Homo sapiens: one gene and its partners. The protein of the gene in region 1 purifies or fractionates together with the protein of each later gene. This does not show direct contact. Each region holds a gene or a part of one and is shown in the gene's direction. Other genes may lie near its edges.

The links. Proteins that work in one complex are often made in the same cells at the same time.
Region 2: the proteins of ARL6IP6 (region 1) and ESYT2 purify together in Homo sapiens (affinity purification with mass spectrometry; one large-scale study listed by BioGRID and IntAct). This does not show direct contact.
Region 3: the proteins of ARL6IP6 (region 1) and SLC43A3 purify together in Homo sapiens (affinity purification with mass spectrometry; one large-scale study listed by BioGRID and IntAct). This does not show direct contact.
Region 4: the proteins of ARL6IP6 (region 1) and BLVRB purify together in Homo sapiens (affinity purification with mass spectrometry; 2 studies listed by BioGRID and IntAct, with this or other methods). This does not show direct contact.

Annotation. Positions count from the first base shown.
Region 1 is NC_000002.12:152,725,120-152,728,619, forward strand, and holds part of ARL6IP6 (ADP-ribosylation factor-like protein 6-interacting protein 6), read left to right. Parts: intron 1-3,500.
Region 2 is NC_000007.14:158,733,004-158,735,509, reverse strand, and holds part of ESYT2 (extended synaptotagmin-2), read left to right. Parts: coding exon 1-7; intron 8-1,038; coding exon 1,039-1,088; intron 1,089-1,257; coding exon 1,258-1,303; 3' UTR 1,304-2,506. UniProt on the Homo sapiens protein: Tethers the endoplasmic reticulum to the cell membrane and promotes the formation of appositions between the endoplasmic reticulum and the cell membrane. Binds glycerophospholipids in a barrel-like domain and may play a role in cellular lipid transport.
Region 3 is NC_000011.10:57,424,322-57,428,308, reverse strand, and holds the start of SLC43A3 (equilibrative nucleobase transporter 1), read left to right. Parts: upstream 1-1,187; 5' UTR 1,188-1,247; exon of another isoform or gene 1,248-1,423; intron 1,424-1,656; 5' UTR 1,657-1,721; intron 1,722-1,919; exon of another isoform or gene 1,920-1,956; 5' UTR 1,957-2,136; coding exon 2,137-2,320; intron 2,321-2,599; coding exon of another isoform or gene 2,600-2,638; coding exon 2,639-2,768; intron 2,769-3,987. UniProt on the Homo sapiens protein: Sodium-independent purine-selective nucleobase transporter which mediates the equilibrative transport of extracellular purine nucleobases such as adenine, guanine and hypoxanthine.
Region 4 is NC_000019.10:40,448,746-40,452,245, reverse strand, and holds part of BLVRB (flavin reductase (NADPH)), read left to right. Parts: intron 1-753; coding exon 754-882; intron 883-3,500. UniProt on the Homo sapiens protein: Enzyme that can both act as a NAD(P)H-dependent reductase and a S-nitroso-CoA-dependent nitrosyltransferase. Promotes fetal heme degradation during development.

The DNA of each region.
Region 1 (3,500 bases):
ATCTTCAAAAGAATAAAGAAAACTGAGCTATATTTCTCATAAAGTTTATTTGATCTTGAAATTACCACATTGGTCTATTGGACATTTTTTAATTTTGAAATACGTTTTGGGATTTTAGTGGTCACATATTGTTCTTTCTCAAAACATTCTCCTATTTCATTATTTTAGTATTACTCATCAATTCTCAACTATGGTCGAAAGAATAAAATAATTATGATGGAATTAGGATTCCAGTAAGACTTTCCTAAGACTTTAAGTATTTTTTTCATCTTTTATGAGGTCTGCATCCTAATTTATTTGATACTGTTTGTAAGTGGACAGATGCTAAGGGCAGATGTGTATACAAAGGTGATTTGGAAAAAAAAATGCAAAAAAGAATTATTGGGTTGACCATTTGAATTGTTTGTAATCTAAAAATGAAAATATGTTACAAATTATGGAGCAAAGAAGATTGTTGTCCTCTTTTCGTCAAAATAAGCCATGAAAGGCTTAAAAATTCCTTCAAACATTGTGTTTTAATGACGCAAGTGCAAAAAAAAAAAGCAGGAATAATGACAAGCTGTAACCAATTTGAGATGTATCTGAAATCTGGAAGTGGTATTTACAAGATGGATATGTTGTAGATTCATACATGAAGTTAGTAAGCAATTATTTGCACTCAGGTCGTGCCCATTTTTGGTGTACATGACTTTAGGGAAACTGGGAATTGAAATTCGGATTTGCTGTATTTATTTCTTATGAAAATTTTTAACAAAGTTTTTTTCCTGCTGTCTTTTTGCTCTCTAAATTATTCTTCAAGTGTCATGAAAATAAAGGAAATAAAAAAGCCTCTTTGGACTTATATGATAAAAATATTGATGACTGTTTTCCCTGTTATACTGAAGATTACAAGCTTCAGAGGAGAATATAAATTTAACAGGATTGCCCATGAATTAATTGTTTAAAGCTGGATGATGGGTATATGAGTTTTATATACTTCTCTCAACTTTTTCCTGTGTTTGAAATGATCTGTAATAAAAGTGTTGGGTTTTTTTTTTAATTTTCCCATGTGAATCTAATGATTTACCAATGTTGGGAACTACAGGTGTTATTTATTTTTGAAATTTCAGTCACTTAATCTGTCAGAGGATCACCTTCCTCATCTGTTTCAACAGAAAGATGTAGAAATGCTACAGTCTGGGTTGCAGGTGGTCGGGCGATTGGGTGAAGGCCTTAACCAGTGTAACTGCTATAGCTACCATGCACTCTGCACCCACTATGCTCATGTTGCATTGGCAGGAGAGGAGAGAGCACTTTCCTCTGCTCCTGCACTTGGCTTTGACGTGTAAAGAGACACTTTGCTCTAGGGATTTAAAGACTTGAGCTATCTATAGAATGTGATTTAGAGAGGATACCAAATTATTTAAAATAATGGTCATCCTCTCAAGTTAGAAAACTATAGAATCTAATAAAGTTGAGAACATTTGCTTACATAAACATTTAAAAATTGATGGTTAGTTTCATGCATATGATACATCTAAGTTTTATTAGTAGCCAGCTGGTAATAGTTTTTACAACTTTTAAAGTTAGCTAAGTACAGCCATACACCACATACCATTTTGGTCAACAGTGGTCTGCATATATGCCTGTATGATGGTGGTCCCATAAGATTACAGTGGAGCTGAAAAATTCCTATTTAGTGGCATTGCAACTGTCCTAACTTGGTAGTACAATATATTGCTCACATGTTGGTGTTGATGCTGGTATAAACCAACCTATTACCAATCTAGTTTTATATAACCTTCCAGTCATAAAAAAAAATACAGCACAATTACGTGCAGTACATAACATAATTCTTGATAAACAATTATGTTACTGGTTTATGTATTTACTATGCTTCTTATTGTTTTAGATTATATTACTTCTGCTTAAAAAAAGTTGACTGTAAAACAGCCTCAGGCAGGTCCTTCAGGAGGTATCCCAGAAGAAGGCATTGTTGTCATAGGAGATGACAGTTTCATGCATGTTGTTGCCCTTGAAGACCTTTCAGTGGAAAAAGATGTGACAGTGAAAAACAGTGATATTACCTTGACCCTATGTAGGCCTAGGCTAATGTGTGTGTGTCTTAGATTTCAACAAAGAAGTTTAAAAACTAAAAAATTAGAAATAGAAGCTTATAGAGTAATGGTATAAAGAAAAAACATTTTTGCACAGCTGTACAGTGTCCTTTTGTTTTAAACTGTTAGTAGAAAAGGGTAAAGTTAAATTTTAAAATTTATAAAGTAAGAAAGTTACAGTAAGCTAAGGTTAATTTATTAATGAAGAGAAAAATTTTTTAATTTAGCGTAACCTAAGTGTACAGTGTTTATAATAGTCTATTGTAGTGGACAGTAGTGTCCTTGGCCTTCACCTTCACTCATCAGTCACTCGCTCACTGATTGACCCAGAGCAACTCTTTGTCCTGTAAGCTCCATTCATTGTAAGTACCCTATACAGGTGTACCATATTTTATCTTTTACACTGTATTTTTACTGTACCTTTTCTATATTTAAGTATGTTCAGATACACAAGTACTTATTGTTGTATTACAGTCGCGTGCAGTATTTGGTATAGTAACATGCCGCACAGGTCTGTAGCATTGGAATAATAGGATATAACTGTATAGCTCATAGGTGTGTAGTAGGCTATATACCTAGGTTTTTGTAAGTACGCTCTTGTGATGTACAAACAACAACGAAATCACCTAATGATGCATTTCTCAGAACATATCCCTGTCATCAGTGTATGATTGTATTGTATTTTCATTGTTAGTATCATAAAATGCATTAGTTACGTAAGTAATTTAATCTCACCAGGAAAGATTCCAACAATTAAAGCAAAGGCTTTCACCGATCTACCTGTGTGTCTTTTTACATCTTTTTCTCTTTGTTTACATATGTATAGTCATTTAAAATACATGTTTTTTTCACTGTTATAGGAAAAATATAATTGGAATCATGTATATTTTGCAGCCTTGTTAAAGTGCCTTTTGGAGTATATTCTGTATTAGTATACATAGGTCTACCTCATTTTTTCATGACTGCATTGTATTTCATAATATAAGTATACCAGTTTATTTAAACATTTCAAATGTCAGAATCTCTTACCCAGGACTTGGAAATTACTAGTATACAGTCACGTTTAATCCCATTGTTTACTTATGAAGTTTTATGAAGTGTGTGCAATTGATTGCCTAACACTTATTTAATAGGAAACCTTTCCCTAGTATAGGAACCATGAGAGTTTTGTTTTTTTCTGGTGTATTCTGATTATATATAATATGTGTAAATTGGTGCCTCTGTGTCTGACTTCATAAAACTTCTTGAAAGTTGCCTCATCCCCGTAAGCTAAAACTGTTAAACAAAATGAAAATATTTAGAGCATATAACAGCCTCTTTTGCTGGAAGGTTTTATAGAAATAAAGTTGCCAGCATATTTTTAGAAGAGTAACTGCTCCCTGACACCAGAATGGCTTATTTTGA
Region 2 (2,506 bases), on another chromosome or scaffold:
TGGCAAAGTAAGTGCCAAACGAATCCTCAACCAGTTCCTGCAGTTTGTAAAATTGAACATTTACCTGCAGTGCAGTGTTTAGACCATGTCTGTGTAAGTGGAAGGGGCGAACTTACGAGGTCGATGCTTGTTTATAAATCATGGGCTATAAAGACAGTCAAAACATCTGTGCTTTCTGAAGATATTTTAAGTTAAGTCTTCACATTTTTGTTCAAGTATCACATTGAAGGAAAATAATCTCTTACAATTCCATCTCCTCAACTGATGGCTCTGCTCTTTTTCTAAAATTCTTTGGCTTTATTTATGTGAATTTCTTCTACTCTTTGTCCGTATTTCACATTTCACTTTGGCATGTGAGTGTATGTTATTTAGGAATGAGAGTAGGTTCAGTTGGGGAGGAAGAGATTTGAGTCACGGGCATCATTTCGTCAGCTGTGCTGCCATGGAGGGCACATGGGCCAACCCTTCTGTGAGTCATCTCCGCTGATATTCCGTCATAGCTGAATTTTAAGACTGCTGGTTGCATGAAGGATTTCTTAGATGTATTCAGCGATGTAGCTTACAGGTGCTCAGGGGGGTAGAAAAGATTGAAAAAGTAAGAGCCTTCAGAAAAGGGAGAGTCCATATTCCTAGATGAAGACAGAAGATTAGAGAGATGAGAAGAAGTGGTAAAAGATCTAAAAGACATTGTCTTAGCCTACTTTATGTATTTGTTTATTTATTTAGAGACAGGGTCTGTAGAAGCACAGGCTGAAGTCCAGTGGCGCGATCATGGCTCACTGCAGCTTCAAATGCCTGGGCTCCAGCAATTGCTGTCTCAGCCTCCCGAGTTGCTGGGACCAAGGTGCGTGTCAGCACGCCCAGATAAATTTGTTTTACTTTTAATAGAGACAAGGTTTCACTATCTTGCCCAGGCTGGTCTCAAACTCTTGGGCTTAAGAGATCCTCCCATCTTGGCCTCCCAAAGTGCTGGGATTACAGACGGGAGCCAGTGCCCCCAGCCCAGCCTACTTTAACTGCTTTTTTAACAACCCACAGGTATTGGTTGCTCTGGCATCTGAAGAACTTGCCAAAGGCTGGACCCAGTGGTGAGTGTCCCTGCTGCAGACAGAGAACCCCAGTGTGTAGCTAAAAACGCTTTCCCCGCCCAGTGGGTAGTGTCCCCCACAGACAGTGGTGGAACCCGACACGTATCTGATAGGCTTTTCCTACTTGGTCCTGTATCCGTCACCACCTTCCTGTCACTGTCTTTCTCAGGTATGACCTCACGGAAGATGGGACGAGGCCTCAGGCGATGACATAGCCGCAGCAGGCAGGAGGCGTCCTCTTCAGCGTAGCTCTCCACCTCTACCCGGAACACACCCTCTCACAGACGTACCAATGTTATTTTTATAATTTCATGGATTTAGTTATACATACCTTAATAGTTTTATAAAATTGTTGACATTTCAGGCAAATTTGGCCAATATTATCATTGAATTTTCTGTGTTGGATTTCCTCTAGGATTTCGCCAGTTCCTACAACGTGCAGTAGGGCGGCGGTAGCTCTTGTGTCTGTGGACTCTGCTCAGCTGTGTCCGTAGGAGTCGGATGTGTCTGTGCTTTATTATGGCCTTGTTTATATATCACTGAGGTATACTATGCCATGTAAATAGACTATTTTTTATAATCTTTACATGCTGGTTTAAATTCAGAAGGAAATAGATCAAGGAAATATATATATTTTCTTCTAAAACTTATTAAATTCGTGTGACAAATAATCATTTTCATCTTGGCAGCAAAAAGTTCTCAGTGACCTATTTTGTGGTGTTTCTTTTTGAAAAGAAAAGCTGAAATATTATTAAATGCTAGTATGTTTCTGCCCATTATGAAAGATGAAATAAAGTATTCAAAATATTAACATTTTCATAAATATAAGGATGTATTATTGAGAAGTAAGTTGAAGGGCTTATAAGGAAAAATGTTTTATAACTGAGTAATATATTAAGAGAATTGTCATGGTTCATAAATCACATTATGCTAATCTGAAATTTCTTACATAAAAATGAAGTGTCTTATGTTTATTTTAATTGCTGTTGTAACTTACTCATGAAACAGTATACAGACACCTTGTACTTTTCCTCAACTGTAAGAGCAGACTTTCAATGTTAGCAATTAAGCTGTTGTCAAACAATCAGTCATGAGCTTTGTTAATTTTCAATGTTTTCCCAGCCTATAAAAAAAGGAAGGTACACGTTGTCCTTTTAAAGGTTGTGAGGTAGATTGGAGTGAGTAGACAGGATATTGCATTAAAAATTGAAAGCTCGATCTCATTATTGTCAGGAACCCCCAGTGTGACCTCACACATAGGATGTGGGACCTTTGAGCCGATGTGCACTGGCCACCACCAGGGTTGGGGGCGCCACAGCTGCGAGCCCGGCCCCTGCTGTTCTCAGCAGCCACTTCCCAGGCTGCCTCACTTTATGCCATGACTGACCTTAATATTGGGATATTGTTATGCAATTTTT
Region 3 (3,987 bases), on another chromosome or scaffold:
TCATACACCCATCTTATACTTCTTTTATGACAATTCCTATAATTAAGGTACTATTGTCCTCGTCTTACAGGTGGGGCAGCCAAAGAGCTTGCCTCAGGTTGTATAACTAGTGAGTAGCTTGGGGTACAGGACCCCAGCCACCCTTCCTCCATTCAGTCAAGTCACTAGGGTGGTTGCAGACTTTTATCTTTTGTGCTTTGGTGGTGAGCTGGAAAATCCTCAGTTCTGGCTGTCCCCTATCGTAACCTCTATTTCTTCCTCTTAAAAAAAAGAGGAGTGGGCTTGGAATAGCTGGAGTTCCTGGGCCCTCAGGGGATCCAGGTAGCTGGGGTTGGGAGTCTGCAGACTGCATCTAATACGCAAGAAGCTCTCCCCAAACTGAGCTTTTGGCAAGGAAACGGCCACACAGGCCAAAGAAGACGTCAGCTCACGTGCTCTGGGCTGGAAGGATAGTAAGGCAGCTGCTTAGTAAGGCCTCACGCTGATCACAAGCTCCGATGAGCAATTATATATGTCTTTGATTAATAAAAAATGGGGCAATGAATGGTTAATCAATGCAGTCTGGCGGGAAGGCTCTTTCAGAACCTGGGGGGCGGGGGTGAGGCAGGGAGTCATCTAAGGGGTTTTTGGGAGTGAAAATATGGGGCAGTCCTCCAGGGGATGGTTTCTGAAAAGCCCTCAGTCCTGGTTCTTGGCTTCCTGATTCTGTGGTTGGGATTTTTTTGGCAGCTCTGGGAGTGTGAAACTGGGAGAGACGGTTAAGCTGGTGAGCAAATAGGAAAAATATGTTCCCTGCCAACCCAGCGGTCAAGGCAAAATGCACAAATAGAGTGTGTGTGTCCCTATGCCCTCATGTGCTGTCTGTGTGTCCTCTGGGTGCTGGGTGTGACATTTTCCCTAGGTGGGCCTGAGCGAGTAACAGCATTCAACTAACTTGGTTAGGGGAGGCAGAGGCAAGGGGGCTGGGAGGCTGAAAGGCAGCGAGGAGGGAGGGAAAGACACCGCTGGGGTTCTAGGGGGTTCTAGAGGGAGAAGTTTCAAGAGGGAGAGGTAAAAAGGGCGCGGGAGGCTGTGAGCAAGGGAAAAGAAGAAGGAAGTGATGGAGAGTGGGAGGTCTGCCCCAGCCCCTTCCGGGCGGGCAGGAGGGGGCGGAGGCGAGCAGGGGACTGGGAGGGGCTGCGAGAGGCGCGAATGCGAACCTGGCCCGTGCGGAAAGGGCGCGGAGAGCCCCGGCGCGGAGCAGGCGGGTAGGGCGAAGGGTCCCCTTTCGGGCGCCATGGGGCGCCGAGCGCGGCCTGGCCCCTCGGGCTCCTCTGCGGGGAGGGCAGGCCGCAGGCTGGAGCGGGGTGCGGAGGCTGGCGGGGAGCGGCCCCCGGAGGCTTTCCTGGTAGAAGTTGATGCGAGGAAGGGCGGCGGGGACCAGGTTTGCGAGTCCTAGGCGAGGGTCATGGGAGTTGGGGGTATTTCTGGCAGTAGAATGGCCTGCGTCGTGACTAAACTAGCCCTGTGACCTTGGGCAAGTTCCTGAAATCCATGGGAGCTTTTGTTTCATTGTCAGTAAACTGAAGATAACACCAACTTGGCAGCGGGAGTTTGTGTCTTCTGTATGAAATCTCCCTGCCTCTGCACCTGGTTGAGTTGCTGTCATTATTTTAGGGGACGGTATTCAGAATTCGAGCGCAGGAGCTCCGCTTCTCCACCTGCTCCCGGGGAGCTATTGGGTAAGTCGTTTATCTCACCTGTGACTCCAGGTGGCCATCAAGACCTGCCTCTCTACTTGCCACGTGGTTACTCAAATGCAGTGCCTAAGATGATGTATTGGAGTATTTATTCCCCACATTTGCTGCCAGCGGCCATGATCATCCTGCCTCTTAATGCACCTCACAAATAACTCTAGTCTACCTTTCCCTTTCCCGCAGGCCTCCTCTTCCAGCAGCCTCTATCTTTATTCTACAGGATCCAGAGAATCACCCGCTGATGGTTTTTGCCCAGGCCTGAAACAACCAGAGAGCTACGGGAAAGGAAGGGCTTGGCTTGCCAGAGGAATTTTCCAAGTGCTCAAACGCCAGGCTTACGGCGCCTGTGATCCGTCCAGGAGGACAAAGTGGGATTTGAAGATCCACTCCACTTCTGCTCATGGCGGGCCAGGGCCTGCCCCTGCACGTGGCCACACTGCTGACTGGGCTGCTGGAATGCCTGGGCTTTGCTGGCGTCCTCTTTGGCTGGCCTTCACTAGTGTTTGTCTTCAAGAATGAAGATTACTTTAAGGATCTGTGTGGACCAGATGCTGGGCCGATTGGCAATGCCACAGGGCAGGCTGGTAAGGGCAGGGATGACTTTTCTAAGGAAGTTAAGTCTGGCTCCCACGTGGTGGCAAGGAGCAGGAAGGACTCTGCCCCCTGCCCACCCCTCTTTCTATGATGAGAGGAAGGGTCAGCAGCTCTCACCCCACTTGATCTGGGAAGTGCCTGGGAGGGAGGCACCAGCTCCTGAGGGGTAATTAGGGGCAGCCACATTTCAACTCAGCTTAAGGGACAAGTTTGCGACCGACAAGCTGTCTGAGGTGGAGGGGAGCCCAGCCTGTGTGCTCATTTGGCAGGAAGGCTGGGATGCATGGGAGACCTTTTTTCTACTCCAGACTGCAAAGCCCAGGATGAGAGGTTCTCACTCATCTTCACCCTGGGGTCCTTCATGAACAACTTCATGACATTCCCCACTGGCTACATCTTTGACCGGTTCAAGACCACCGTGGCACGCCTCATAGCCATGTAAGTCCCAAAGGCCAGCCCAGGCAAAGGTGGGTAAGAGGAATCCTTCAGGCAGCAGCCTAGCTTGGAGTGAAATCCAGAGTCAGACAGCCCGGCCACCCTGCCAGGCACCACACCTGCAGCTCGCTCCCAGCAGCTGTTAGGAACAGCCCCAGGCAGCGGGACTCTCTCTAGACTTGCCCACTTCACCACAGCCCCACTTCCATTTCCTTACCTCGTTCCCTGCTCTGCATAAATGTGGCTTCCCTATCACGTGCTGAATTGAGCCGGAGGCCAGGGTGACTTCCTGTAAGGGCTGGCTTGGAGCCAGGGTTACAAAATTAGCAAAACCTAAAATTGCTCTTCTCTTCCTTCACCCCAAGGATCCTTGTCCTCATCCCCTGCACAGCCTCACATCCAGGTTGCCCAGGCTTCATCCTCATCCTCCTCACCGCCCCCCCTCCCCGCCCCAACAGCCAATCACTCCCTAGGGGCTTAGCTAATAGGAAGTTTCTTTGGTATTGCCACTGGTGGAATTTCAGGTCCCTTCTGACTGGAGGGGAGACTGGGGGGGTTTCCTGTGCAGATGAGTCAGAAGGTTCGGGACGTGATCTCACACACAGTGTGTTGCTGCATCCTAATCTCGTGCTCTGTGGCCAGGCTCAGTGGTAATCAGCGGCCTGCTGGGGGCTGATACAGCTCAGAGCAGGTGCTCCCAGGGAGGCACATGTGAGATTGGCTGTCAGAGAGAGAGACGGGAGGGCTGGCTGGGCCTGCCTTTCCGGAAACAGCCAGAGTAAAGCCAGTCCCTTACAATTTAAGCCTTTGGATGCAGAATGACTGTACCTCAGTCCTTCTTGGTCCTTGGCTCCCTGCTACCTCCCCTTTCCTCCCCTTCCTTTGTCCCCTCCCTCTTCTCCAGCCTTAGGATATTGCTTTTTTTTTTTTACTCCATGCCTTACAAGACCCCCAAATGCTAAGGGAGCCTGATAACCTTGGGACTGTAGTCCTGAAATCATAGCACTCTGAGCTAGATCAGTCCGATCATTTCTTTTTATAGAAAAGGCTCCTGAGGCCCAGAGAAGGACAGCGCCTTGCCCAAGGTCACAGAGTGAGGAGGAGTTAGAACTCAAGGCCTTGATTTGCAGACCAGGCACTAACCCCTTTCTCCAAGGGGTTGGGCTGTTGGGGCTTCCAGGTGGGAGGACCTTCGCTTTGCCCATTCTGTCCTGGCTAAGTC
Region 4 (3,500 bases), on another chromosome or scaffold:
AGAGGCGTGTAAGAGAGAGTGGTAGGCAGAGTAGGCAAGGACGTCAGAGGGCTGATGGGGCCATATCAGGTGGGGCCTTGAGGGCTGGCCATGGGGACTTTGCTTCTACCCTGAGTGAGATGGAGCTATGGATGTGAACTGATAGGGGTGTTCACGGGCTCCTTGGGAGGAGGGAAGGAGGGGCTGAGAGACCAGGGAGTAGGCTGCTGGGCTGGTCCAGGCAAGAGGTAACAGTGGACAGGACCAGGCGGAGTGAGAAGAGGTCAGATTTGGAATTATTGTGATCAGCAGACAGCTCTTACCTGGGGTGTGAGGGAAAGAGGAGCCCCAGAGGACTCCCCTGTTTTTGCAACTGGAAAGCAATGGTCAGCCATGGCAGGGTTTTGTCCTGGCATCAAGACAAGCGAGCCCTTGGCTGGGCACAATGGCTCATGCCTGTAATTCCAGCACTTTGGGAGGTGGAGGAGGGTGGATCACCTGAGGTCAGGAGTTTGAGACCAGCCTGGCCAACATGGCAAAACCCTGTCTGTACTAAAAATACAAAAATTAGTCAGGCCTGGTGGTGTGCACCTGTAATCCCAGCTACTGGGGAGGCTGAGGCAGGAGAATTGCTTGAACCCGGGAGGCAGAGGTTGCAGTGAGCCGAGATTGCGCCACTGCACTCAGCCTGGGTGACAAAGCGACACTCTGTCTCAAAAAAAAAAAAAAAAAGACAAGAGAGCCCAGGCTGATCCTGCCCTGTGTTCCCTCCAGCTTTCCTGCTCTGGGACCCTACCAAGGTGCCCCCACGACTGCAGGCTGTGACTGATGACCACATCCGGATGCACAAGGTGCTGCGGGAATCAGGCCTGAAGTACGTGGCTGTGATGCCGCCACACATAGGTAAGCAGGGCAGGGACCTGGTGGCACCAATGCCATCTGCCTGTTCCCTCCTGCCCTCTGGGGAGATCTGCAAGGCCTTCCCTGACCACCCTAAAATTGCAAACCTTCCTATGATATTGTGACATATATATTTGGCCTTTGTCCCTGTTTCCTGGCATACAACTCCTAAAATCCTTGGAATCTCCAAAATGGTAAATGTCTTTTTCTATGCTAATGAGTTCACTGAGAGCTGGCAGCCCCTAGGCAGCTTCAGGTCTGGTCACCAGAAAGACTAAGGCTGGATTACAGGGTTGGGACTTTCACCTCTGGGGAGTGGTGAGGGATTGAAGGTTGAGGGGATTACCACTGGCTAATGGTTTAATCCATTATGTCTATGGATTCTGGGGCTTCAGCCTCCTGAGTAGCTGGGATTACAGGCCTGCATCACCATGCCCCGCCATGGCTTACATTTCTAGTATGGGAGATAGAGATTAGATAGATAGATAGATAGATAGATAGATAGATAGATAGATAGATAGATACATAGGCCAGGCATGGTGGTTCACACCTGTAATCTCATCACTTTGGGAAGCCAAGACGGGAGGATTTCTTCAGCCCAGGAGTTTGAGACCAGCCTGGGCAACATAGACTTATCTCTACAAAAAAAAAAAAAAATTAGCTGGGCGTCGTGGCACACACCTGTGGTCCCAGCTACTGGGAGGCGGGAGGATGGCTTGAGCCCAGGAGATCAAGGCTGCAATAAACTGTTGCCCAGGCTGCTGTACTCCAGCCTGGGTAATAGAGTGAGACCCTGTCTAAAAAAAAAAAGAAAAAGACAAGAAAAGATAGATATTAATGGCCGGGTGCGGTGGCTCACGCCTGTAATCCCAGCACTTTGAGAGGCCGAGGCGGGCAGATCACAAGGTCAGGAGATCGAGACCATCCTGGCTAACATGGTGAAACCCCATTCTCCTGCCCAGCCTCCCGAGTAGCTGGGACTACAGGCGCCCGCCACCACACCTGGCTAATTTTTTGTATTTTTTAATACAGACGGGGTTTCACAGTGTTAGCCAGGATGGTCTCAATCTCCTGACCTTGTGATCCGCCCGCCTCGGCCTCCCAAAGTGCTGGGATTACAGGCGTGAGCCACTGCGCCTGGCTTTTTTTTTTTTTTTTTTTTTTTTTTTGAGACAGAGTCTTGCTCTGCCGCCAGGCTGGAGTACAGTGGTGCGATCTTGGCTCACTGCAACCTTTTGCCTCCTGGGTTCAAGTGATTCTCCTGCCTCAGCCCCCCGAATAGCTGGGACTACAGGCGCGTGCCACCACGCCCAGCTAATTTTTGTATTTTTAGTAGAGACGGGGTTTCACCATATTGGCCAAGATGGTCTCGATCTCTTGACCTCGTGATCTGCCCACCTTGGCCTCCCAAAGTGCTGGGATTACAGGCGTGAGCCACCACGCCCAGCCAAGTGTGTGAAAACTTCCACACCTCCCGATTTGAAAGCATTAAAGGTTTATGAATACACATAAGCCCTTTGTTTAGGTTCAATGCTTAGCATTTTATCCTGTTGTCTCTCCCTCTCTCCTCCTCTCTCTCTCTCCATGAATATATAGTTAGATTTTGCTGAATATATTGTGAAAACATATATGCATATGTATATTTGGCTTAATCATTTGAGAGGAATTGCAACATTGTCGCACTTAACTCCTAAATACCTAGACAGCCATCTCCTAAAAGAAAGATATTTGCACACAAAACATGCTCACACCTAAGGAAAGTGACATTTACTCTGTCATATCATTTAGTATCCACTCCGTAGTAAAATTTCCCCAACTGTCAGGCCAGCGTGGTGGCTCACATCTGTAATCCCAGCACTTTGGGAGGCTGAGGCGGGTGGATCTCTTGAGGTCAGGAGTTCAAAACCAGCCTGGCCAACGTGGTGAGACCCCGTCTCTACTAAAAATACAAAAATTAGCCAGGTGTGGTGGCGGACACCTGTAATCCCAGATACTCGGGAGGCTGAGGCACAAGAATTGCTTGAACCTGGGAGGTGGAGGTTGCAGTGAGCCAAGATTGCACCACTGTACTCCAGCCTGGGTGACAGAGCAAGACTCTATCCAAAAAAGAAAAAAAAAAATTCAACCCACTCTGCCCTTTTTCTTTAAGTTTCTCATAACATTAACCAGGCCAGGTGACTTTAAAGGCCCACATTCTGGATTTTTCTAGCTGTTTTGTCACAGATTCAGATTAAACATGTTGGGCAGGAATGCCACATGGGTGAAGGTGTGTGTTCCTTTTTTTTTTTTGAGACAGGGTCTCCCTCTGTAGCCCAGGCTGGAGCGCAATGGCACAATCTTGGCTCACTGCAACCTCCGCCTTCTGGGCTCAAGTGATTCTCCTGCCCAAGTAGCTGGGACTACAGGCATAAGCCACCACACTCAGCGAATTTTTGCATTTTTTGTAGAGATGTGGTTTTGCCATGTTGGCTGGTCTCAAACTCCTGAGCTCAAGTGATCCTCCCACCTTGGCCTCCCGAAGTGCTGAGATTACAGGCGTGAGCCACTGTGCCCAGCCAGGGCAGGAGCTTCCTGTCTGCTTTGTCCCAAGCAAACACACAGCCAAGGGTGTGTGTTCCATA